Homo sapiens: one gene and its partners. The protein of the gene in region 3 purifies or fractionates together with the protein of the main gene of each other region. This does not show direct contact. Each region holds a gene or a part of one and is shown on either strand. Other genes may lie near its edges. The genes, in order: EIF2B3, OPA1, DEPTOR, CCDC6, MAPKAPK5, MYCBP2 and COPG1.

What was found.
Region 1: the proteins of DEPTOR (region 3) and EIF2B3 purify together in Homo sapiens (affinity purification with mass spectrometry, with the first as the bait; one large-scale study listed by BioGRID). This does not show direct contact.
Region 2: the proteins of DEPTOR (region 3) and OPA1 purify together in Homo sapiens (affinity purification with mass spectrometry, with the first as the bait; one large-scale study listed by BioGRID). This does not show direct contact.
Region 4: the proteins of DEPTOR (region 3) and CCDC6 purify together in Homo sapiens (affinity purification with mass spectrometry, with the first as the bait; one large-scale study listed by BioGRID). This does not show direct contact.
Region 5: the proteins of DEPTOR (region 3) and MAPKAPK5 purify together in Homo sapiens (affinity purification with mass spectrometry, with the first as the bait; one large-scale study listed by BioGRID). This does not show direct contact.
Region 6: the proteins of DEPTOR (region 3) and MYCBP2 purify together in Homo sapiens (affinity purification with mass spectrometry, with the first as the bait; one large-scale study listed by BioGRID). This does not show direct contact.
Region 7: the proteins of DEPTOR (region 3) and COPG1 purify together in Homo sapiens (affinity purification with mass spectrometry, with the first as the bait; one large-scale study listed by BioGRID). This does not show direct contact.

The regions. Positions count from the first base shown.
Region 1 is NC_000001.11:44,854,096-44,857,595, forward strand, and holds part of EIF2B3 (translation initiation factor eIF2B subunit gamma), read right to left. Parts: intron 1-3,500. UniProt on the Homo sapiens protein: Acts as a component of the translation initiation factor 2B (eIF2B) complex, which catalyzes the exchange of GDP for GTP on the eukaryotic initiation factor 2 (eIF2) complex gamma subunit.
Region 2 is NC_000003.12:193,638,208-193,641,707, reverse strand, and holds part of OPA1 (dynamin-like GTPase OPA1, mitochondrial), read right to left. Parts: intron 1-3,500. UniProt on the Homo sapiens protein: Dynamin-related GTPase that is essential for normal mitochondrial morphology by mediating fusion of the mitochondrial inner membranes, regulating cristae morphology and maintaining respiratory chain function.
Region 3 is NC_000008.11:120,006,222-120,009,721, reverse strand, and holds part of DEPTOR (DEP domain-containing mTOR-interacting protein), read right to left. Parts: intron 2,918-3,500; coding exon 2,847-2,917; intron 694-2,846; coding exon 589-693; intron 1-588. UniProt on the Homo sapiens protein: Negative regulator of the mTORC1 and mTORC2 complexes: inhibits the protein kinase activity of MTOR, thereby inactivating both complexes. DEPTOR inhibits mTORC1 and mTORC2 to induce autophagy.
Region 4 is NC_000010.11:59,900,057-59,903,556, forward strand, and holds part of CCDC6 (coiled-coil domain-containing protein 6), read right to left. Parts: intron 1-3,500.
Region 5 is NC_000012.12:111,887,228-111,890,727, forward strand, and holds part of MAPKAPK5 (MAP kinase-activated protein kinase 5), read left to right. Parts: intron 1-1,260; coding exon 1,261-1,391; intron 1,392-1,657; coding exon 1,658-1,773; coding exon of another isoform or gene 1,774-1,779; intron 1,780-2,812; coding exon 2,813-2,917; intron 2,918-3,500. UniProt on the Homo sapiens protein: Tumor suppressor serine/threonine-protein kinase involved in mTORC1 signaling and post-transcriptional regulation. Phosphorylates FOXO3, ERK3/MAPK6, ERK4/MAPK4, HSP27/HSPB1, p53/TP53 and RHEB.
Region 6 is NC_000013.11:77,047,626-77,051,094, reverse strand, and holds part of MYCBP2 (E3 ubiquitin-protein ligase MYCBP2), read left to right. Parts: coding exon 1-98; intron 99-3,469. UniProt on the Homo sapiens protein: Atypical E3 ubiquitin-protein ligase which specifically mediates ubiquitination of threonine and serine residues on target proteins, instead of ubiquitinating lysine residues.
Region 7 is NC_000003.12:129,259,606-129,263,105, reverse strand, and holds part of COPG1 (coatomer subunit gamma-1), read right to left. Parts: intron 2,774-3,500; coding exon 2,706-2,773; intron 2,488-2,705; coding exon 2,299-2,487; intron 1-2,298. UniProt on the Homo sapiens protein: The coatomer is a cytosolic protein complex that binds to dilysine motifs and reversibly associates with Golgi non-clathrin-coated vesicles, which further mediate biosynthetic protein transport from the ER, via the Golgi up to the trans Golgi network.

The DNA of each region.
Region 1 (3,500 bases), on a different chromosome or scaffold from region 3:
AGGTTCAAGTGATTCTCCTGCCTCAGCCTCCCAAGTAGCTGGGATTACAGGTGTGTGCCATCACACACAGCTAATTTTTGTATTTTTAGTAGAGATGAGGTTTCACCATGTTGGCTGGGCTGGTCTCGAACTCTTGACCTCAAGTGATCCACTCGCCTTGGTCTCCCAAAGTGCTGGGATTACAGGCGTGAGCTACAGCCTCTGTACCCAGCCATTTTTTAGGTTTTGACTGTTAGCTGTAGCCATTCTACTGCTTGAGAAGGTCAAATTTGGCTGCCAGTATTTTTGCCAGAGATAACCAATGAGAGTATTGGGATGGGGTGAGAAAAGTCAGAGTTGTTATAAAATGGCTTGTTTTCGTGTTGGTGCTAGAAGAGGGTAGGGAGGCCTACACTGAGTTACGAGCCATACTTTTGGGGAAAAAGACTGCTATGGATGTGGTGACTCTGGAGCATGAAAATGATTAGAATTTGGAGAGGAGACTGCATTATGTCTTTTTTTTTTTTTTTGAGATGGAGTTTCGCTCTTGTTGCCCAAGATGGAGTGTGATGGCGTGATCTCAGCTCACCACAACCTCTGCCTTCCAGGTTCAGGCAATTCTTCTGCCTCAGCCTTCCAAGTAGCTGGGATTACAGGCATGCACTACCACGCCCGGCTAATTTTTTGTATTTTTAGTAGAGATGGGGTTTCTCCATGTTGGTCAGGCTGGTCTCGAACTCTTGACCACAGGGATCCACCCGCCTCAGCCTCCCAAAGTGCTGGGATTACAGGCATGAGCCACCGCATCCGGCTGAGACTGCATTATTTCTTAGGATGAATGTTTTTTCCTGAAACCCCTTCATGTGAGGAAGACTGACGGAAGACTTTGCCATCTATTGAGCTCTTTGCTGGTAAGGATGTGAGTTGTTGGTGTTTGCCTAGGTCACCTATAGTAACAAGTCTTGAGTGCTGCACTGATGGTTAGGAGTTTGCTTTCACCATACGGCTCAGTCTCAAAAAAAAAAAAAAAAGAAGAAGTAATAGTGGAAAAAGGCAACTGGCCAGGGAGTTCCTGTGGCAGGAGGGCACTGACCACTGTGCTGGATGCACTGGTCCTTCCAGCAGAGGACAGAGAGAAGGAAGTGGTGGGGTTGTCCAGTTTAGAGCCCAGACAAGATGACTTCCCTGGCCAGCCCTCCTTCAGCAGGACCATTAAAGGGTCTCCTTGCTAAAAGGTGGACACATAGTGTTAATTAAAGCCAGAAAGCCCAGGAGTTTATGAAGCCCATCTCATGATGATTGCAACCATCGCACAGAGGCCTTTCTTGGAACCCTAACTTTATACCCTGAAATCCCCCAAAATATGTTTCATGGATCCAACATTCATTCATTCACTCTTTTCCCCTTCTGAGCATTTACCATAAATCAGGACCTGTTCTGAGAGCTAGGGATGCATATAGTTATGAGACAATCGACCTTGAGGATCTTTTTTTTTTTTTTGAGATGGAGTCTTGCTCTGTCACCCAGACTGGAGTGTAGTGGTGCAGTCTCAGCTCACTGCAGCCTCCGCCTCCTGGGTTCCAGCAATTCTCCTGCCTCAACCTCCCAGGTAGCTGGGATTACAGGCATGCACTACCACACTTGGCTATTTTTTGTATTTTTAGTAGAGACGGGGTTTCACCATGTTGGTCAGGCTGGTTTCGAACTCCTGACCTCAGGTGATCCGCCCACTTCGGCCTCCCAAAGTGCTAGGATTACAGGTGTGAGCCATCATGCCCAGCTGACCTTGAGGATCTTAGTAGGGAAGGCTGATTCACGGATAATTGCCATGGCTTGTGAAACATACTTTAATAAAGGTGTGGCAAAGCTCAAGGACACAGTGGAAGGAATGTGTAGTTCTGCTATGGGGAGTCATGGGAAGAGGCAGAGAAGGTTCTACAAAGGAGAAAACACTTGGTCGGAGTCTTCAAGAGAGGAAATCTAGAGAGAGCACATGTAAAAGCATGGAGAGGTATAATGGCACGGTATGTATGAGGAATTCTAAGTCTTTTGGTACACTCAAGGAGTAGTGCATATACCTGTCATTTAATTATATGTAATTCTCACAATTCTCCAAGGTAGCTATTATTGTCCCAATTGTCTAATTAAGAAAATCTGGGGCTGGGCGCAGTGGCTCATACCTGTAATCTCAGCACTTTGGGAAAGTGAGGTGGGTGGCTTGCTTGAGGCCAGGAGTTCAAGACCAGCCTGGGTGACATTGCAAAACCCTGTCTCTACTAAAAACACAAAAATTAGCCAAGGGTGGTGGTGTGCCCCTGTAGTCTCAGCTGCCCGGGAGGCTGAGGCACAAGAACCACCTGGATCCAGGAGGAGGAGGCTGCAGTGAGCTGAGATAGCACTACTGTACTCCAGCCTAGGCGACAGAGCAAGACTCTGTCTCAAAAAATTAAAATTAAAAAAAAAAAAAAAAAAAAGGAAAATCTGAGGGCTTAATGATTAAAAATTTCACTTGGTGCACAGCCACTAAGTTGAGTTGAGATGTGAACTGAGGTCTGTTTGATTCTAAAGCCCAAAAGGAAGGCATATGACTTTAAAAAAGGGAAGGGGGAAGAAACTGAAGAAGGAAATGATGTGGCGTCTACAGAGTTGGTGGGGTTAATTCCTTCAGCAACTCCCCTCCCCACCTTATTTTAGGTTTAGGAATAATACCAAAAGCAATCAGTCATTTTAATTTTTATTATTATTTTTAAGACAGGGTCTCCCTCTGTCACCCAGGCTAGAGTGCAGTGGTGCGATCTCAGCTCACTGCAGCCTTGACCTCTCAGGCTCAAGCAATCCTCCTGCCTCAGCCTCTTGAGTAGCTGGGACAACACGTGTGTGCCACTGTGCCTGGCTAATTTTTAATTTTTTTGTAGAGATGGGTTCCTGCTATGTTGTCTAGGCTCAAGCGATCCTCACATTTCAGCCTCCCAAAGTGTTGGGATTATTGGCATGAACCACTGTGCCTAGGCTTCAAGAATCACTGTACAGTATTGGTGCCAACCTGGGCCATTAGATCTATTGATATGTTTTCAAGGTTTTGAGATTAAGGGTGCATACATGTATAAGCTTATCTATAAGATTAATTTCTAGAAATGAAACTGTTAAGTCAAAGTAAAAAAATTTGACAGTGATGCCAGGTGCGGTGGCTTACGCCTGTAATCCCAGCACTTTGGGAGGCTGAGGTGGGCAGTTCTCCTGAGGTCGGGAGTTCGCAACCAGCCTGACCAACATGGAGAAACGCCATCTCTACTAAAAATACAAAAAATTAGCTGGGCGTGGTGGCACATGCCTGTAATTCCAGCGACTCAGGAGACTGAGGCAGAAGAATCGCTTGAACCCGGGAGGCGGAGGTTTCAGTGAGCTGAGATTGCACCATTGCACACCAGCCTGGGCAACAAGAGTGAAACTCCGAAAAAAAAAAAAAAATTGACAGTGATGTCAACTGCTCTCCAAAGATGGCTTTATCAATTTATGTTCTC
Region 2 (3,500 bases), on a different chromosome or scaffold from region 3:
ATTAGCTAAACAGGCTAAATTTAAAAACAATAAACAGCTGTTGGAAAGCTGTTTAGCTATTTTCCATCAGAGGATTTGCTGATTTGTAGCACAGGGCAAAGGCCCAAGAGAAAAACTTAAAATGTGTAGCAGTTTCACTGGGTTGAGTAGACAAGATTGGAATTCCGAGTTATTAAGTAGTCACGTCTTAAGGTGCCACAATCCCAAAGAAAAATGAACTGCAGAAATAAACCTCCAAAACAAAACAAAACCCTACATCCTGCGCACAATTTCCTTTCACGGCATTCACATTTTAGGAAACCAAGCAGAAAGAAGCTGCTAAGGAGGTTAAAATGCTAAGCTGGGGTTTTGGCACTTTCACTGCTCTAGGGAAACAAAAAACTGGAATTCAGGGTTGGTCAAGGAGAAGCTCTAGTAAACACTAAGGGACTAATGACAAACCGGAAAGAGACCAGCCTCATCTGTTTCAAGGAAACCTGTCCACACCCTGCCTGCCAAAACAAAATTAATTTCTTCTTGAAGTATCATCCACAGCTTCTACAATTAGGATGCTAGTAACAATGTAAAAGGTAGGTTTCTCTCCCATGTTTTTACAACTGATTATTGAACAGGATATGAGGTGTAGTCTGAGGTTCATTTTGTTTTTTTCTCTAGGTTAGATGTACCCCAAATTCCCATCGGTAGTAAAATGGATATGTAAAGTCTGGTACAGTCACACAGTACCACACACAGAACTAGTAACACATAACACGATTCAATCCATAGCTAGACCCACAAAAGTGCAATCTAGATGAATCACACTAGGCTGCCCATACCCTGTTGCACTTGTAAACAGATTTCATTTCTTGAAGATTTCAGCATCAGCCTCACTGTCTTTCTCCCACTATTCTTGCCATAATTCTTGGTAATTTCAATCTTCCAATTATTCTACACCTACCCCCCACCAGCTAAACATGAAAAAAACAAAACACAATCATAATGATTCATTTAAAATTTATGTCCACAGAACTTAAAGGGACTTCAGTCCACCTCAGTAATCCTAATATCACTTGACTTTCTCCACTGATTCACTCCTAGAGTCACCACGATCTGTTAACAGACTTCACTTTTTCTTCCTGCCTCAGTCTTTAATCTCTTCTCCTTTCTAATTAACAGCTGATCATCTGGCTTAGTATTTCACTGAGTAAGCGGAAGCAATCAGAAGGAAACTTCCACACGTTCCCCTTTCTTGCCTCCACTGGTGAACTCAACGACTGGTTTCTATGTTCACCTTCCTTGATGGATCAGCAGCATGTGACCTCACTGAGCACTCCCTCCTCCTCCATGTTTTCTTTTTGTTTACCTGACTTTGCGCACACTGTCCTGCTCTGCTTTCCCTCTTACTATACTGGTTGGGCCTTCACACATTCCTTTGTTATTTTCTCTTCCCTCAACATCTTAATGTTCAGAGTGCCCAGAATATACTGCTTGCTTCTGTGTTTTCTCTATCTCTACTCACTCCCTTGAAGATCTTCTCCAGTAAGATCATGACTTTAAATACTACTTTTAGATAGTTGATCATGACTCCTAAATGTATGTCTCTGGCCCACACCTCTGTCTAAACTTGTATACCCAACTGCTTGTTATCACCACTCAGCAAGTCCAAAACTGAACTCCTGATCTTCTTCCCCCAAACCTGATCCACTGACAGACTTCCATGCAAACTACATCCTTCAATTTGTTCAGGCTAAAGACCCTGGAGGCATCATTGATGATTGACACTCTCTCTCTCTCTCCCCATTGCTTTTCTTCTCTCCCCTCTCCATATCAAACCTGTCAAGAAATCCTGTTAATTCTACTTTCAAAACACATTTATAATCTATCCATTTCTTACCAGTTTCACTGCTACTTCCCTAGCCCAAGTATCACCTGGATACTCCAGTAGCCTAGACTCCCTGGTTCTACATCTTGGCTACAACTATTTTCAAAAGAGCAGCCTTTTAAAAGGCACTTTTGTTACTTTGCTCGAAATCCTGCACTGGCTTTCCATTTTACTTAAAACGGAAGTCTGTACAATGGCCTATAAGGCCTTATTGATCTGTTCCTCCCCGCTCTTCATTATTCCTCTAATGTCATCATTTGCCCCGACCATGGCTAGCTCTTCACCCCGACCTGACCACACAGGCCTCTTTGTTGTTCCTTGAACATGACAGCCACACAACCACCTCAGAGGCTTTGCATCAGCTATTCTCCTTGCTGAACACAGGATATCCTCAGGACTACTCCCTCACTTTCTGCAAATCTTGGTTCAAATGCCACCTTATCAATGCAATCTATGAATACTCTGGCACCCTCATTCTCCTTGCCTGGTTCTGCTTTTTCTTGTTGTACAACACTATTGCCTTCTAACCTACTATACAATTATGTATTATATTTATTATCTATTATCTGTCTCCCTCTACTAGAACATACCCTCCATTAAGGCAAGGTTCTTCTTTGTTGTTGCTGTTTACCAACATATTGCCTAGAATGCTACTGGTACATATTAAGCATTCCGTAAATATCTGTTCAATGAAAGACTCTGCAGCCCCATACCTTCTTCCTGTGACCCTGGAGAAATTGTCAGTGCTCCCAGATATGGACTAGTACACCAAGTCACAATCTCCTTCACCTCAGTAACTTTGCTCTTGCAATTTTCCCTCTCTCTTGCATCATTTCCCCCCTTTATTAGATCATTATAATCAGCATATAAACATCTTTAATCCTTTTCCCACTTGCTCCGACAATATTTGCCAGCACCGCTTGCAGCTGCAGCATTTGCCCCAACATAACTCTGCCATAAAATATCTTCACTTTTATGATTATTTTCACATAGCTCTAGTGTACTGACTTTGGAAACAAAAGACATTCTATTTCAAGCATTCTGTTTTTAGTAGCGGTACGTCCATTTACAAAATATAGTAATTTTCAATAGCTGAAAATGTCAAATCCTAGAAAATGCGGAATTCCTATGTGTGATGTTTACATCATTCTCAAAAAGTTGTTGGCCGAAGATTGATTTGATAAATCTGACTTTTAAAAAACAGACATTCTGATGATTGGGACGATTCTGATGTTAGTACTGTTTAGAAATAACTCTAAGAACAGTTTTTATATTTTATTTTCACATTGAAAATTAGTCAGATTTGCTTCAGCTTCAGAGAGTGTGTTTACGTAAAATTAAATGAGCACTGGTGTTGAGCTGCACTTTTTTTCTAAACAGGAAAAGGGTTAAAAACCTTCCCTTAATTCAACAATATTCAATTGCTACTGCTTCATTTCTCTGCTCTTTTGTCACAATAAAACTAGAAAATTATCTATATTCATTGACTCCACTTCCAATATTCTCATTCTCTTAACTTCTCTCTTATCTTATTCAGAATAAAATCCAAAGGCCTCCCAACTGGGTCTCTGTCATCCTCTCCTACCACTCTCCCCTCACTCAGCTCCTGCCACACTGGCCTCCTGGCTGTGCCTTCTAC
Region 3 (3,500 bases):
GGAGAAAAAGTACACATGGCACCAAATAATGAAATTAAGCTAGAGGTATTTAGACACTGCTAAATGTTGTTTTGTTGTTGTTGTTGTTGTTTTGTTTTGTTTTGTTTTAGAGACAGAGTCTCGCTTTGTCACCCAGGCTGGAGTGCAGTGGTGCGATCTTGGCTCACTACAACTTCTGCCTCCTGGGTTCAAGCGATTCTCCTGCCTCAGCCTCCTGAGTAGCTGGGATTACAGGTGTGTGCCACCACGCCCGGCTAATTTTTGTATTTTTAGTAGGGATAGGGTTTCGCCACGGTGGCCAGGCTAGTCTTGAACTCCTGACCTCAAGTGATATGTCTGCCTTGGCCTCTGAATGTGCTGGAATTACAGGTGTGAGCCACCGCGCCTGGCTAGACACTTCTAAATGTTTATTAGAGGAGAGGGAAGACCCAGGGAAAGGTTAAAGACTTTGGAGAACAAGAAAGAGAGGGCAGAAATAGAAAAGGACACAAAATAAGATGGGTTTGGATCCCTAGTAAGAATCATGGCCAATTTAGCATGAAGAACCCAAGACAGATATAAAAGAGGGTGAGAAAGACCCGTTAGTACCTTCATTCCTGCTGCGGCTGCAGGGCCACTGGGGTCTACAGCCTGGATGTGGCATGGCTTACTTCCTCGCACCACAAAACCCCAGCCAACCGCGTCACCAACAATCTAGAGAGGAAAACCACAATTAGCAAGCAGCCGACTGTCTCCGGCAATTTGCTTATTCTTCTGAGGGAGAGAAAACCAGCCCAGGATTAAGTATACACTGTGACATATTTTCCTCCGTTTCTCTCTTCCCTGCCAGGGGATTGGAACACTGCTTCTATCACAAACCCGGGCATCTCCCTGTAGAAAAGGTGGTAAAAAAAATCTAACCTGTTTGGCAGAAAGAAGATGCTCCCATGAGGGCATGATTCAATAAACAACTGGAAGATTTTCTCTTTCTTAGGCTGTTATACAATTTAATGTCAGACTCCAATAGAAGGTTTAGAAAAAGTCGTAACGTGGTTGAAATGTCTCTCCAGATACAATTTCTGCTCTAAGTTTGTTCTTTTCCCCAGTATCCAAATGATACACTCTTGATCCTGCAACGTCATTGAAGTCTAGCATAATTATTGAAATTACTAATGGTGGGAAATAAAGAGACCTGGCTTTTTTTTTTTTTTTTTTGAGACAGAGTCTTGCTCTGTCACCCAGGCTGGAGTGCAGTAGTGCAATCTCAGCTCACTGCAACCCCACCTCCCGGGTTCAAGCGATTCTCCTGCCTCAGCCTCCTGAGTAACTGGGATTACAGGCATGCAACACCATGCCTGGCTAATTTTGTGTATTTTTAGTAGAGACAGGGTTTCACCATGATGGTCAGGCTGGTCTCGAACTCCTGAGCTCAGGTGATCCACCTGCCTCAGCCTCCAAAGTGCTGGGATTACAGGCGTGAGCCACCATGCCCAGCCTCCACCAAGGGAGCCCTCCACCAAGGGCTCCACCATGCCCCTTTCTCCACCAAGGGGGGAAAAGAAGTGAAAAAGTACATAAAGTTCACAATGTACAAGTAGACTCTAATCCAAAAGTTGTTTGGAATTAGAGAAGGCCTTTTCTATAGAAATCATTATTAGAGCTGGCAGTTTAATTCCCTGGACAGCTCCTAGCCACATCTTTCACACATATCCCAACCAAAACACAGCTGAAACACATTCACAATCAATTACTAACAATGTTGGCATTTAAATTAAAAATCAAAAATAAATACTTTCAAAATAACAATCTACCTCTCTTGAATGCTGGAGACTGAGGAAAAACAGGGAGGCAAATGAAAATTTTTGTGGAAATGCTCAAGATTTTCAGGCACTTCCGTTACTTTACAGTTTGCTGTTATTTGTATATTATACTCAATTTCACTTCCGAAGGTGGAGTTTATCTTTTCCTCTGGTACAGACATGTTGTCAGCGCCTTTCTCCTATTAACTCCTCAGCATTCAGAATGTGAAATAGCCCTCAGCAAATGTTTGCAGCATGACTGAGTGTGGATAGAATTCTCCCCCAGCCTGAGGCAATGCCACTAAAGTTAGAAGATGAAGGAGGAGAAGTGTTTTGAAGAGGGTATGAACGTGAATTTGAGGAGATTGACAGAAGGAGACACAGGAAGGGGAGTGGGTGCGGTGATGCTGAAAAGAGCACTTTCATTCCATTTGAAGAAATCCAACGTAGGCATTAGGAACCTAAAGGACCTCCAAGAAGGGGCAGGTGGTCCGGAGCTGCTCACAGCAAGTCAGAGGCTCGTGTACCTCAAGGCATGCACACATTGTCGAAGCACCCTGCCTACGGTAGAAAAGTTTATCCCACAGTTTCCTTTCTCTAGCTTAACACTCCCCTAATGTTTTAAATAATTTCTAGAATTAATCCTAATGCAGAAGGGATTATTGGCATCATTTGCACTTCCATTTGCCATAAAATCTAATAATAATTTAAATGACTAATGGTGGGAAATAAAATCTAAAATTATTAGATTTTAAGGTAAATGCAAGTGCAAATGATGCCAATCTTGAAATTTGCAATTAAATTAGAATAAATGCATAATGGAAATCTTTTCTTTAACAAAGAACACATCAAAAAATTTTTAAATGGTATATTAATAATAACGCATGTGAAGTCCTAATGCACCTTAGTGCCTTGAGGTCAAGAAAGCCTAGTATCATAATTACGCTAAAAACAAAAAGAAAATTAGAAAAGTAGTTTTCATTTCAGTCTATAAGCTACCCATTGACACATGGACACGGTGCAGAAAAATGGGCAGCACGGGAGAAAAAGGCCAGACCATCAGCCTACCGTGAATGTCTTCCTTGCATACGGAGCCCCGGGAGTAAGGAGTTCCTCAGAGGTGACAGGTCTCTTCAGCACTGGCAGACAAACACAATGTCAAGACATAAGCACTTCCAAGTCCTCTATCCATGCATTCAGCAGCTATTTATTGATATCTCGTAGGTGACCATCAGTGAGAAAAAGTGGCAAAGATCCCTGCCTCACAGTTTATATTTTAGCTGAATGGAGACAGTAAATAGCAGCAAACATAAATAACCCTAAACCTACCTTACAAAGCTAAGGAAAAAAAGAAAGAGAAGGAAAGCAAGAGTGCCAGGGGTGGGGATAAGGGGGCAGGTCAATTTTTTTTTTTTTTTAAAGACGGAGTTTTGCCCTTGTCACCCAGGATGGAGTGCAATGATGCGATCTCGGCTCACTGCAACCTCCGCCTCCTGGGTTCAAGCAATTCTCCTGCCTCAGCCTCCTGAGTAGCTGGGATTACAGGCACCCAACACCATATCTGGCTAATTTTTGTATTTTTAATAGAGACAGGGTTTCACCATGTTGGCCAGGCTGGTCTTGAACTCGTGACCTCAGGCAATCTGCCTGCCTCAGCCTCCCAAAGTGCTGGGATTACACGCATGAGCCGCCCAGCCTCACTTCCTTCTTAACACCTAGGAC
Region 4 (3,500 bases), on a different chromosome or scaffold from region 3:
TGCCTCTGGAGCCAGCTCAACAAATTTCTGGGTGTTTCTCACATGCCAAGCACTGAGGAATGTGATGAACAAGGCAAATTCTGCCCCCAAAGAAATTTACACATGAACCGGGAAAGATCTCGATAGTCGAGTGTCAGTGACGTGGGGTGGGGGGGGTGGTGTCTATGGAACCACGGAAGTAGGTGCATACCCCAGTAGCAGGTGCATACCCCGGTGTGTGGCTGACAAAGAGGAAGTATCAGGGCATACCAGGAAGGGGTTCAGGTGGAGAAGGCAGTACAGTCTATTTCAACTGACAAGGTAGAAAAGAGGGGAGGAATACAGAAGAACATTTAAGGGGACGAGCGGCACCATTGAGGAGCCAGAGGAAATCTACTGAAGTTCTGGGTGCTAGTAGTAAAGGAGTGATGTGAGAGCTTAGAGAATGCACACTGGGCTAAACGCATGTAAGAGGTGTGGCTGTGAAGCAAGCAGGGCATTCCAATCATGCAGAGCCTGGTAAACCACCAGAAGGTTCACCTGGATCCAAGGACAATGGGGAGTCATTCAATATGTTTAAGCAAGCAATGGCTACCTTCAATTTTTGCTGTAGACCAGCCTCTCTGGTCCTGAACAAGAGTCACCACAAACCAGATACTGTGAATTCTCTAATGATTCCCCATCTCTAGCAAATAGGAAGCACTGTAAAAGACTGTCATGACCTTTAAAATTTCAGCTTTTGGCTGGGCATGGTAGCTCACACCTGTAATCCTAGCACTTTGGGAGGCAGAGGTGGGTGGATCACTTTAGGCCAGGAGTTCTGAGACCAGCCTGGACAACATGGTAAACACCACCTCCACTAAAAATACAAAACTAGGTGGGCATGGTGGCGCATGCCTGTAGTCCCAGCTAGTAGGGAGGCTGAGGCATGAGAATCACTTGAACCTGGGGGGCAGAGGTTGCAGTGAACTGAGATCGCACCACTGCACTCCAGTCTGGGTAATAAAGCTGTCACACACACACAAAAAAAACAAACGGTTTTTAAAAATTAAGTACAAATAGAGTATATGAAACACATAGAAGATACTTACAAATGTGAAAAAACTCGTAAATGCTGAAGAAATAGGAGAATGGCCTCTTTAAGAAGACTTGTGTACAGTTAGACCTAACTGTGAGGTCATATTTTCCTCAAAGTTGTGTCTAAAGTTGTGTGTTTCCATAAGAATCTAAGAAATACTTTTCTAAACGGGGGGAAAAAAGACATCACACTCTCATCGTCACATTTATAAAGGCAATATCGATTTGTAGCTTCAGAGTCTGACAAAAGTCTTAAAAATTGAAAATAACATATTAGACTTCCAGAGTAAATAATCCAAAATATACAACATCAACTATATGGCAGATTTTATTGGTTAATGAAACCATTACACTGTTGATGTTTAAAATAGCCAGGTTTTCTAATCATGCCAGACCAACATATTTTTCTATTATAACTTCAAAACACCTTGTACTTCTGTATTTCCCTTAACTTCTACAATAAAGGATTAATTTTACAGTCAGAGAGACACTTAAATATCAGTGATTTATTATAGGCCTTGATTTCCAAACCAAACACATACCAAAGGTCTGAAACTGCCTGGAAGAGGTACACACCCTAGAGAACCACCTGAGGCCCTGCTTATACACGGAGAATGCCAGCAACTAGCTGAGAACTTTGAAGCCATCCAATTACTGCCCACAATTGCATTTCCTCACCTTCTCTAAGACCACCACCCCACAATAACCCTCACTACACTGAATCATATAATCCACAATCACATTCTCACTCATAGGACAAACCAACAGATCTGGCCTAACATACAAAAGCTACTCAAAAAGGTGACTATGCATTTGTTTATTTCCCCTACTCCAAAAAAAAGAAATTATGATCTGTAATCAGTAGCCTGATTCCCCTGCTGACTTCATGGGGAAAATTGAATAATCACTCAAAATATTCTATTCCACTTTTAAGCCCCAAATAAAATGGCCTAGGGCAGGCTATAACTCACAGGTGCACTGGGCGCTTGTGGACACGACTGAAAGACTGCTTACTGTTGATTGTCTCCCACAGATGATGTTTACCACTATTATACAGATACTGAGAACACAGGCCCATGAAACTAGTCGTTCATTAAATGGGTAGTTTGACCAGAATAGCCGCTTACATACCAGAAGAGACCATTGGTTAAGAGCTTCTATTAGCCTTTGGACTTGGCTTTAAAAAGGGCATAACAGAGATATTACTATACACCTATTGGAATGGTCAAAATCTAGAACACTGACTACAGCAAATGTTGGTGAGCAACAGTAACTCTTTTTTTTTTTTTTTTTTTTTTTGAGATGAAGTCTGGCTCTGTCACCCAGACTGGAGTGCAGTGGTGCGACATTGGCTCACTGCAACCTCCACCTCCTGGGTTCACGCCATTCTCCTGCCTCAGCCTCCAAAGAGGCTGGGATTACAGGCATGCAACACCATCCCCAGCTAATTTTTCTGTATTTTTTTCAGTAGAGATGGGGTTTCACCATGTTGGCCAGGCTGGTCTCGAACTCTTGACCTGAGGTGATCCGCCTGCCTTGGCCTCCCCAAAGTGCTGGGATTACAGGCATGAGCCACCGCGCCCGGCCCCGCCAAAGCAACTCTTATTCACTGTTGGTGGGAATGAAAAACGATGCAGCCACTTTGGAAGACAGTTTGGCAATTTCTTATAAAACTAAACATACTCTTACCATATAATTCAGCAATCATGCTCTTTGGAATTTACCCAAATGAACTGATATCTTTCCAGACAAAACCCTTCATATGAATATTTCCAGCAGCTTTATTCATAATTGCCAAAAGGTGGAAACAACCAAGATGCCCTACAGGAGGTGAAGAGATAAATTATGATACATCCAAACAATGAAATACTATTTAACTCTGAACAGAAAACAAGATATAGGAGTTGGGGAACATGGAAGAAACTTAAATGCATTTACTAAGTGAAAAGTCTGCATACTGTATGATTCCAACTATATGACATTCTGGAAAAGGCAAAACTAAGGAGAGAGTAAAAAAAATCAGTGGTTGCCAGGAGTTTGCAGGGAGGGAAAGATGAACAGAGCGTGGAAGACTTCCAGGGCAGAAAAACTCTGCGTAATACTATAATGGTGGACACATGTCATTATACATTTGTCTAAACTCATAGAATATACAAGACCAAGTAAACTCTAGACTTTGGGTGATAATGATGTATCAACGTAGGTTCACTGACTATAACAAATGGACCACTATGATGAAAGATGTTGATGGTGGAGGAGGCTGTGCCCGTGTGAAGGCAGGGGTTACGTGGGAAATCTCTGTACTTTATGTTCAGTGTTACGTGAAGATAAAAGTGCTCTAAAAAAATAAAGTCTATTAAAAAACAAAACAAGTCGGGGGAAAAAAAGAGCCCGGCTCTTCCCCAGGGTGTGGCAAAAAGGCAATGTGTCTTCCTGAACTTGCT
Region 5 (3,500 bases), on a different chromosome or scaffold from region 3:
GGAGAACTGGAAAGTACAGTTCTCTGCCTTCTCTTTGATTTGTGGGTGGTTGTCTTCCTGTTGTCCAGAAATGGTTTGGTCATTCAAAAATCCAAAGGGATTACTTAGATCCTGGTTGTCAGCACATAGAGGTTACTCAAGATCTTAAAAATGAGGAGATAAGGCCAGGCATGGTGGCTTACGCCTGTAATCCCAGCAGTTTTGAGAGGCTGAGGCAGGCAGATCACTTGAGGTCAAGAGTTCCAGACTAGCCTGGCCAACATGAGGAAACCCCATCTCTACTGAAAATACAAAAATTAGCTGGGCGTGGTGGCATGCGCCTGTAATCCCAGCTACTCTGGAGGTTGAGGCAGGAGAATTGCTTGAACCTGGCAGCGGCAGAGGTTGCAGTGAGTCAAGACTGCACCACTGCACTCCAGCCTGGGAGACAGAGCAAGACTCTCTCAAAAAAATTCTTGTTGTGAAAATTCAGGTGGTACAGCCGTGTTAAAAAGTAAAAGTTCCCTTTCATTCCCTGCCACAGTCACACCCCTCAGAGGTGAGGTAATCTATGGCTTGATGTATACTTCCTGATCGTTTTCTGGGATACACACACACACACACACACACACACACACACACACACACATTCTGTCCTTCTTTTAAAGTACAAAAATGGAAAAAAAAATACAAAAATGGGATCATATTCCTATGAAGCCTTCTGATGATTTCGTCTGCCCGTAGTGAGATTATACACTGTTCATAAAAGCACAAACTTCCAGAGTTCCAGACTCCATGACAGCTATTTCTCACTGTAAATTACTTGACTGGTTGTGGCCTCGGTCATGTGGCCTCAGCCTTGGCCATGTGAGATGGTCAGGGCTCTGAGCTGTCAGGGCTGAGGTGAATCAATACCGTCTGTAAGGCTTCTTGGGCAGCAGCCTGCCAGCCTTTCCGCTGATGTCCATATGTGCCTCTTTACACTTCCCCTCAGTAGTGGCTTTGAGTGGGGTTCCTGCTGGTATTTCTTACTCGCATTTCTGTCCCCCCACCAGGGAAGAAGGGCTAGTTGTTGTGTGACCTTTGGTTGGCCTGGTGTTTCCTGGTTCCTGTTGATCCATGGGGAAAAGTCCTTTGCCTTATCAAAATATTTATATTCCTTCAGCATAAGAGTGAAATTACCTTCTTAGTACTTTGAGCTTTTCCTTTCCACTTTCTTAGACTGGCTTTTTAGGTGCCCAGCAATGAATATGAAAAACTGACGGCAGTGTTTGCATTCAGGCAGTGGTTGCAGGAATCCAGCAGGCTCACGCGGAACAGTTGGCCAACATGAGAATCCAGGATCTGAAAGTCAGCCTCAAACCCCTGCACTCAGTGAACAACCCCATTCTGCGGAAGAGGAAGTTACTTGGGTAACTGAGCTTATTTCTTCGATTCTTCTTCATGGCTGGAATGGCTGAGTACTGGGTTCTGAAATTTAAGAAATTTAACTTGCTCAGCTAGGGGTCTTTAGCCTCTGAAGAGGGTGGAGAGGATAAGTTCTTTAAATAGTATCAGGAGTTGGACACTATTGTTATTTTTCTGATACATCTGTTGCCTTATGTTTAGAGGTAATATCTGTCCAGAGTTGGTTTTTGGGGTCTCACGTTGTCATTACCCCTCCCTCAAACTCTTAAAGCACCAAGCCAAAGGACAGTGTCTATATCCACGACCATGAGAATGGAGCCGAGGATTCCAATGTTGCCTTGGAAAAACTCCGAGATGTGATTGCTCAGTGTATTCTCCCCCAGGCTGGTAAAGGTCACACCATTTACTAATCCTCTGTGTGTCTGTGAGTGTGTGTGTGCAGGGGTGGGTGGGTGTATGCATGCACATGGCAAAAGGAATGGTTTAATTTTGGGTTGTCTGTTTCATCTTGTGTTATAAGAAAAGTACATTATATAAGGTAGTCTATGCCCACTAAAAAGATTGGACAGTGGGAGCTTAGAAATGCAGTTAAGTTCTGCCCCTCCTTTGTTTCTGTGGAATTTCTAGTTTAGACTTAATTGGCAGTGTCAGGTGCAAGCATGCAATTTTGTGTTTTCTTAGTTTGACAACAAGGGCACAGGTTGGGGGATGGAGAATGGAAAATGTGGGTAGGGTCTGAATCTCATTGCAGGCTGTTAACCATTTCCAGAGCCTTTAGAGTGCAAGGCTGCCATTAGCTCATAAATAAGAGAATACCTCCTTAGTTCAGAAGTGGCTCCTGCTGCTACTCATGTCATGGGCAGAGTGACTTACACGTGGGTCCTTTGGAGTGAGAGCTTTCTTTCGTTATGTTCTCTCTCCACTCATCGGCGGGTGAGGGGCTATTCTCAGCAGATAAATGAGATGCTTCACGTACTAGGCCAGAAAACAGTTGGGTTGACCTATCTATCTCCCTAGATTCCTTGGGTTTTAAGAGAACTCATGTAGTGTACCTCAGATAGCTTTCTAAAGTAAGAAATGAGCTTAGGGGAGAGAAAGTAGCCCACTCTCCCACTTTTTGGTCTTTGGTTGACCAGGTGTCTTTTGTTCAGCAATAGAGTCTGCCACAGCCTATTTCCCATCCCCTGGTGCTAAGACTCTGGGGCCATCAGTGGATTTGTATAAAGATGTCAGAGTAAAAAAGAGTCCACATACCAGATGCGGTCTACATAATGTAGGGACTAGCAGTAAAGCCCTTGTCTGGTGAAGTTTTGCACATTCAGTCAACATTTTTCAACCAGTTGGACATCACGTCCCTCCATCTCTCACACTAAAACCCCATGATGCTGCAGGAAAAATGCAAATTCCTCTTCATCCTTACCAATAGGAGAGAATGAAGATGAGAAACTGAATGAAGTAATGCAGGAGGCTTGGAAGTATAACCGGGAATGCAAACTCCTAAGAGATACTCTGCAGAGCTTCAGCTGGAATGGTAGGAGCCTTCATCAACTCCCTTCCCCAGGAATGCAGACAAGTGATTATGTTTAGAACATATAGGATCTCTTTGGGGCCTGAGCTGCGGCTGTTTTGAAGTGAAGTGAGGCTGGCTGGAGAGTGAGTGGAGCATTGTGGAATGGGGGTTAGCTCTACATTAACTGCCCAGGCATACCTGGATATCTGGCCCTTTCACTTATTTTCCGGAGTTCAAGTGAATTGTGTATTGCAGATTCAACACTAGAAAGCCCCCATCACACACCACTTGGGTAAAAAAAACCCCCAAATTTCAGAACTCCTCTCAGATACCAGGACTATTCACCAGGTCATTAAGAAGCAACAGATGCTGAAGGGGAGAAAGAGGACAAAGTGCCAGCGAGTCCACCCTGCTGATCCCGCTGATCTGCTTGGCTTAGAGAAGAGCTGTTTCACGAAAGAGGAGAAAGTTTGCCAAATCTACTGCTGGTTAAGTTTTTTTCCCGAAGCAAATAAGGTAGAGATGAATTTCTTGAACTGCCTTGTTTTTCTTGAGGCGGAGTTTCACTCTGTCCCTCAGGCTGGAGTGCAGTGGCGCAATCTTT
Region 6 (3,469 bases), on a different chromosome or scaffold from region 3:
TTTCTGTTTTGGAACAACACATTTTTGTAATGCTTGTCATGATGATTTTCAAAGAATGACTAGCATTCCTAAGGAAGAACTACCACACTGTCCTGCAGGTATGCTTTTAATATTTTAAAATCACGATTATGATCTATATACCATAGTTTTATGTAAACATTATATGAAAGCTCTGTTTCAAGTGACAGAAACTCAATTCAAACTAGCCTAAAGAAGCAGGAGGAATTCCTTGATCCTTGTAAGCTTATGACTTTCTGGGTGAATTAGGAAGCAGGCTCATCATCATGAGTGAGAAGTTAGCTGTGACGGAGCAGATCTCATGGGGAGTGAGAATGAAGTCTACTAAGGATTGGTGAAAAGATGGCTGTTCAGCACTAAAAAGTCATATGAAGTTCAATATTACAGAACCATTTAAAAGGATTCTGTGATTTTTTTTTTTTTTTAACGAAGCCTGGAACCGTTGCCATAAAATGAACCAAGTGATTTAATCTAGAATGGCTGGGAATCAGTAGTGTAGTGAGCATCAGAAAGTCAAGGGAATTAAAGAAACCACTCAGAATACAGGAGAAATTATTGTCTATGGAAAGCAGGCTGAGGGGAAAGAAGTATGAAACCAAAAAGAAGCTGAAAATACTGGAAGAGGACAGGAGGCTAGTGGCAACGGTGAGGTGGAATACCAGGCTTCACGGAAGTGAGAGAAGTGGAAGGAGAGGTCCGTGCAACCATAGGAGAGAATTTTACATAAGATATATCTGAAATTAGTGAAAATACATGCACAAGTACATACAACACAATATACCGTGTTGTCAAAGCTAGAAAACACACACTGCCATCTGCTGCCTATCAGAGTGCAAGTGATAGACCTCTCCGGAAAACAGCTTAATAGTGCCTCTCAAAATTACCAGCGTATCAACCCTTCAGCACTCCCTCTTCAGGGATATAGCTACAAATGTGAGGACAGTAAAAAAGGGCAAATAAACAAGGTTATTAACTACAGCTTTGCTATGATAATAAAAATGTATAAACAATGCTAGTGTCCAGTAGGGTAGTGGCTAATATTACGCATCAGTTTAAAAAAAAAAAAGAGTGAGGATGGTGTTTCTGTGTGCTGATTTGGAAAGATCTTCAGGAGATAGCATCAGATGAAAAAAGTAAATTAGGCCAAGTGGTGTGACTGACACCTGTAATCCCAGCACTATGGGAGACCGAAGCAGGTGGATCACTTGAGGTCAGGAGTACGAGACCAGCCTGGCCAACATGGTGAAACCCCATCTCTACTAAATGTACAAAAATTAGCCAGGCATGGTGGCGGGTACCTGTAATCCGAGCTACTCACGAGGCTGAGGCCAGAGAATCACTTGAGCCTGAGAGGCGGAGGTTGCAGTGAGCCAAGATTGCGCCACTGCACTCCAGCCTGGGCGACAGAGCTGTTTCAAAAAAAAAAAGCAAATTGCAGAACAGAGTATGCAGTATGCTGCCTTTTGTAAGAGGGAAAATGAGACTATCTAGTCATATTTGTTTATATTTACATAAAGAAACCCCTGGAAAGATACTCAAGAAACTAATACTATTGATTAACTATTGGGAAAAGCAAGAAAAAGATGAGGGTAGAGACTAGGGAAAGTTGCTTCCAATTGTGTTATCATTTTTAACATTTTGATTTTAAACCATGTGAAACATATACTATCCATTTCAAAATAAAGATAAGTAGGGTTTTTTCAAGTATGACTACTTTTTACCATTTGCTCATGTCAAATAAAAATTGTTTTACTGTTTCTCCTCAAATACTGTTTTTTTTTAATAGAAGTAGCAGGCTTTGAAAGAAGCAAGGCCAGAATGATGTGAAGCCAGGTTATGGAGGATAATGGACAGAACAGAGATGTGAGCCATGCTTGGAGGGAGGGGGTGATGTGCTGGAGGTCAGCAAGTGAAGGGAGTGTGGAAAGGGCAGTATTCTAGATGACTCTAGATGACTTGAGCTTGGAGGAAGGGCAATTATTGAATGAAAGTTGTAGGTTGTGGTCTGGAAAGAAATAGGAGCCAAGAGAAAAATCAGTCACACGTTGTAGCCATATGACCTGGAGGAGCTTGGGAGATAACCAGCCTCCAGTTGAGAAAGATTTAAGGCAAGCAGTATCTTCAGGGGAAATCTAGATTTTACTTAAAGTTTCCTCTATGTTAAAAAACAGAAATAAGAATGCTAAAAATAAGGAAGTTAACAATGAAACACTTTAGAGAACTCAGTGGTGGGTAGTAGCTGAGAGAGGAGGGTCAGGTTTCCTCACAGGATCAGGGCAGCCAACACAAAGGAATCACAGGAGGGAGGCGGGGGAGGAGCCAGAGTTGGCAGAAGGAAGGAATGACCTCGGTCCTGGGCATTTTCACACATATTTGCTCCATTTTTACAATCTGCGAGTAGATGGTATTATCCCTATGTTATCAAATGGAAAATTGAGGGCTAGGGAGGTTAATGAACTGGCCTAAGAACATACACTGAGATTGAGGTATACTCTCCCAGCCTCACACATCCCTCTAACTCATCCATTCATTTAGAGAACTGGAATAGAATAAAGGAGATCCCACAGGGATGTGAGTAGGGAAGATGGCCATATACAGTTTACTTAGAAGGACAGAAGAAGCAATTCTCTAACCACTCTCAACCCTGTTAATTCTAATATTTTTAGATAATCAGTCTTCATCCATTCAAGCTGCTATAACAAAATACTGTAAACTGGGTAGCTTATAAACAGTGGAAATTTATTCTCACAGTTCTGGAGACCAGGAAGTCTAAGATCTAGGAATTAGCAGTCGAGGTGTCTGGTGAGGACCCACTCTCAGCCTCATAGGTGGCACTTTCTTGCTGTCGTGGAAGGGCAGGGGGCCTCTCCTGGGTCTCATTGATAGGAAGAGCACTAATCCCATTCATGGATTCCACCCCATGACCTCATCACCTCCCACAGCTCCACCTCCTAACACCATAACATTGGTGTTAATGTTGTAGTCTCAGCAGTGCACCAAGATATAACAGTCTCTCATTGTCTGAGATAATGCCAGGAGTTCTTTGTCCTACCTCCAAGAAGATTAAGGAGCACAGATACAAAGGTGAGGTTAGAGCGAAAGTTTAATAAGCAAAAGAAGAAAGCTCTCTGCCAGCAGAGAGGGGGGCCCAAACAGGATGCTCCCGTGAGGCTGGGGCCCAGGGTTTTTATGGACTGGAAAGGGGAAGGAATGTGCTTAGTCTGTGGGCTGTCTTGGCCCGCAGCGTGACTCAGCTTGGCCCGGGACCCTGGCCCAGGAACCCACTGGAGCCCACTGTGCCTATGCCCACAAAAGGAGAGAGCCCCCTGACTATACAAAGGACAAAGGCATTTCTATCCCAGGTCTTGTCCTTTATCTGATTGAAGGTTTTTCTGTCTGTGCAGCCGTGGGCATGTCTTTAGGCACAATGCCCTGTGCTAGTTCCCTCATC
Region 7 (3,500 bases), on a different chromosome or scaffold from region 3:
TCCTCTCCTTCTGAATTACTCCAACAGTCTCTTTACCCAGTCACCCCTCCACTCTGCTCCAGAAGGACTCTTTTTTTTTTTTTTTTTTTTTGAGACGGAGTCTCGCTCTGTCTGGAGTGCAGTGGCACGATCTCGGCTTACTGCAACCTCCACCTCCAGGCCAGGTCAAGCGACTCTCCTACCTCAGCCTCCGGAGTGGCTGGGACTACAGGTGTGAGCCACTACACCAGCTAATTTTTTAATTTTTTTAGTAGAGACAGGGTTTCACCATGTTGGCCAGGCTGATCTCAAACTGCTGATCTCAAGTGATCTGCCGACCTCAGCCTCCCAAGTGCTGTGATTACAGGCATAAGCCACCGCGCCCAGCCAATTTTTTTTTTTTTCAGACAAGGTCTCACTCTGTCACCCAGGCTGGAGTGCAGTGGCATGATCATGGCTCACTGCAGCCTCGAACTCCTGGGTTCAAGTGATCCTCACACCTCAGCCTCCAGAGTAGCTGGGACTACAGGTGCGCATCACCACACATGGCTAATTTTTAAAAAAATTTTCTGTAGGCCGAGTGCGGTGGCTCACGTCTGTAATCCCAGCACTTTGGGAGGCCAAGGCGGGTTGATCATGAGGTCAGGAGATCGAGACCATCCTGGCTAACATGGTGAAACACCGTCTCTACTAAAAAATACAAAAAATTAGCTGGGCATGGTGGCGGGTGCCTCTAGTCTCAGCTACTCAGGAGGCTGAGGCAGAAGAATGGCGTGAACCCAGGAGGCGGAGCTTGCAGTGAGCTGAGGTCACACCACTGCACTCCAGCCTGAGCAACAGAGCGAGACTCCAACTCAAAAAAAAAAAAAAAAATTTGTAGAGATGAGGTCTTGCTACATTGCCCAGACTGGTCTCAAAATTCAGGCCTCAAGTGATCCTCCCTCCTTGGCCTCCCAAAGCACTGAGACTACAAGCATGAGCCACCGTGCCCAGACCCAGAAGGATCTAATATGCAAATCTCACTGTGTCATTTCAGCCTGCAAAGCATTCTTGTAACCCACAGGCAGAGTAGACTGCTGCCTACTTTGCATAATCCACACTATAGAATTTACCACAATATATTATTCATATTATTGTTTGCTCTGATTAAAACTCTCCGGTGACATACTTCATTGTTCTATCAATTAACAATTGTGAAATAACAGAATTACAGAAATTGAGAACAAATTAATGGCTGCCAGGGGTTAGGGAATAGAGAGGTAGGAATGGGCCTGACTATGAAGAGGTAACAAGAGTCTTGTGGAGATGGATAGTTGAGTGTCTTCACTGTGGTGGCAATTTTGAAAGTCTCCACATGACATCTTGCATAGAACTTCACATATATACACACAGGAGTTGCCTGTGTAGCTGGTGAAATCTGAATGAGCTCTATGGGTCATGCCAGTGTCACTTTCCTGGTTGACATTGTCCTGTGCTAGTGTAGGATGCTGGCACTGTAGGAGAGGGTTGATGGAGGGGTGCATAGGACTTCTCAGTATATTTCTTTGTAACTTCCTATGAATTATTTCAAAATATAAGCTCAAAAAATATTCACATCCTTCCTCCTGCCCCAAAAGAACACCTTTCCAATGTCTTCCTTGCAATTAAAACTCTTTACCTGACCATGGGCCTTACATGATTGAGCCCTGTCTATTCTGACTTTGTCACCTGCACTGGCCCCACAGCTCTTCCACCCACTGGCCTTCTCTCTCCTTGACTTGCTCCTGCCTTTCCTCCTGGTTCTTTGCACTGATTCAGGTTTGAGCTCAAATGTCACCCTCCAGAAGGGCCTTCCCAGACTGTGCTCTTCCTAGGATCATCCCTGCTGTATTTCTACACTCTTGACTGCAGTACCCATGCCTGAGATGATCTCGTCTACTCCTTTCTTTACCTGTTTACTGTTCCTCTCCCATCCCTAGAAAGGAAGCTCCAGGAGGGCAGTCACCTGCTTTGTTCACTGCTATGTTCCCCTTTTGTCACTCTACATAGCAGACAGCAAGTGCTCAAGAAATACTTGGACAACAAATCAATGAACCCTTAACTGGCCTGGAAACTACTGTTCTTTCAGTACAAGGGGACGATATGGATGGAGGCCTGGAGGCAGGACTACGCACATTTCTCGGAAGGCCAAGTCTCTGCAGAGCAAACTGCTGGCCTCCTCTGAGTCCTCAAGGCTGACCAGCCCCTCAGGTCAGTCCTGGCAGGAAGGCTGTGGCCACAGAGAGCAGGGACAGAGCTCCTTCCTCTGGGGGCCGTGGGTGTCCTGGGGGTAGCAGGTACCTTGAATTCATCCGAGATTTCTGACATGAAGGAGGAGATCTGCTTCATGAGGCGGTCGATGCTGCTCTCGCTGCCCGTCTTAAGGAGGGTGGTGATGGCCAGCGTGGCAATGCTGCGGTTTGAATCTGTGACCAGGTTCTCCAGATCCAGATTACAAGCTGTCACAGCTGACGGATGCTTCATGGCAACCTGTTTTGGGAGGACAGTGACAGAGAGGGCAGGAACCCAATGCTGTCACTACATTTGATGGTTTGGCCCAGTCAGAAGTCCTTTGGATGAGATCATCTCACCATCTAGAAGAAACTAACTGTGACCAGGGCTATTATCCTTCCCAGCCAGGTCAGAGGCTAGGACACACCTCCAGTTGGATCAGACAGCTTCCTCCAACCCCCAAGCTGGACTCTTACCTTATTGAGGGTACGAACAGCAGCATAGCGGAGAGCAGCCTTGGGTGAGCTGCAGAAAAGCTGGAGCACTGTGGGGAGATGGATGCCACATGTCAGGTTGCCTTCACTGCTGGGCAGCTGGGAAAACCGGGGGCTACTGTTCTGACTCAAACCCTCTGCTCAGCTCATTTCCCTGCTGACACCCCCATCCCAACCCAAGACACAGAGCTCCCCTCACCCTGCGCACCTGAGCCATGGACAGAGGCCATAATGTCTGTGAGCACCCAGGGGTTCCAGTGAGGGCTGTTATTCACTGGGCATCTGCTGTGTGCCAGGTGCTGTGCTATACAGTGGACATGCCTCACTTCTATAGCTTGCAGCCACCACTAGCCCACTTTACAGATAAGGAGACTGAGGCACAAAGGGGAAAGCAAACAAACTTTAGGTTGGCAGCCAGTAAGTGGCAGAACCAAGATTAAATTCCAAGACTGCCTGCACCTGCAGCCTAAGCCCTTAACCTCTGTGAAGTAATATTCCACTCCTCTCTCCTACTGTGTCTACAGGATCCAACAGAACTTCCCCCTTGGCACCAAGTGCTGAAGAACAAAGTCCTCTCTTAAACAAATGGTTTATTTCCTTTAACTAGATGAGAGCCATTCGGGTACCATATCCCTCCCTTGCCCTGGCTGCCCGGAAGCTCAGAGCTAAATTTGGCACTCAATCATAGGAGCGAAGATGACTACTGTTTTCTGGAATATCTATGTTCCTTTCTTCATAACTTGGCTTTTATTCTCTAATACTCAAAAAAAATTTTTC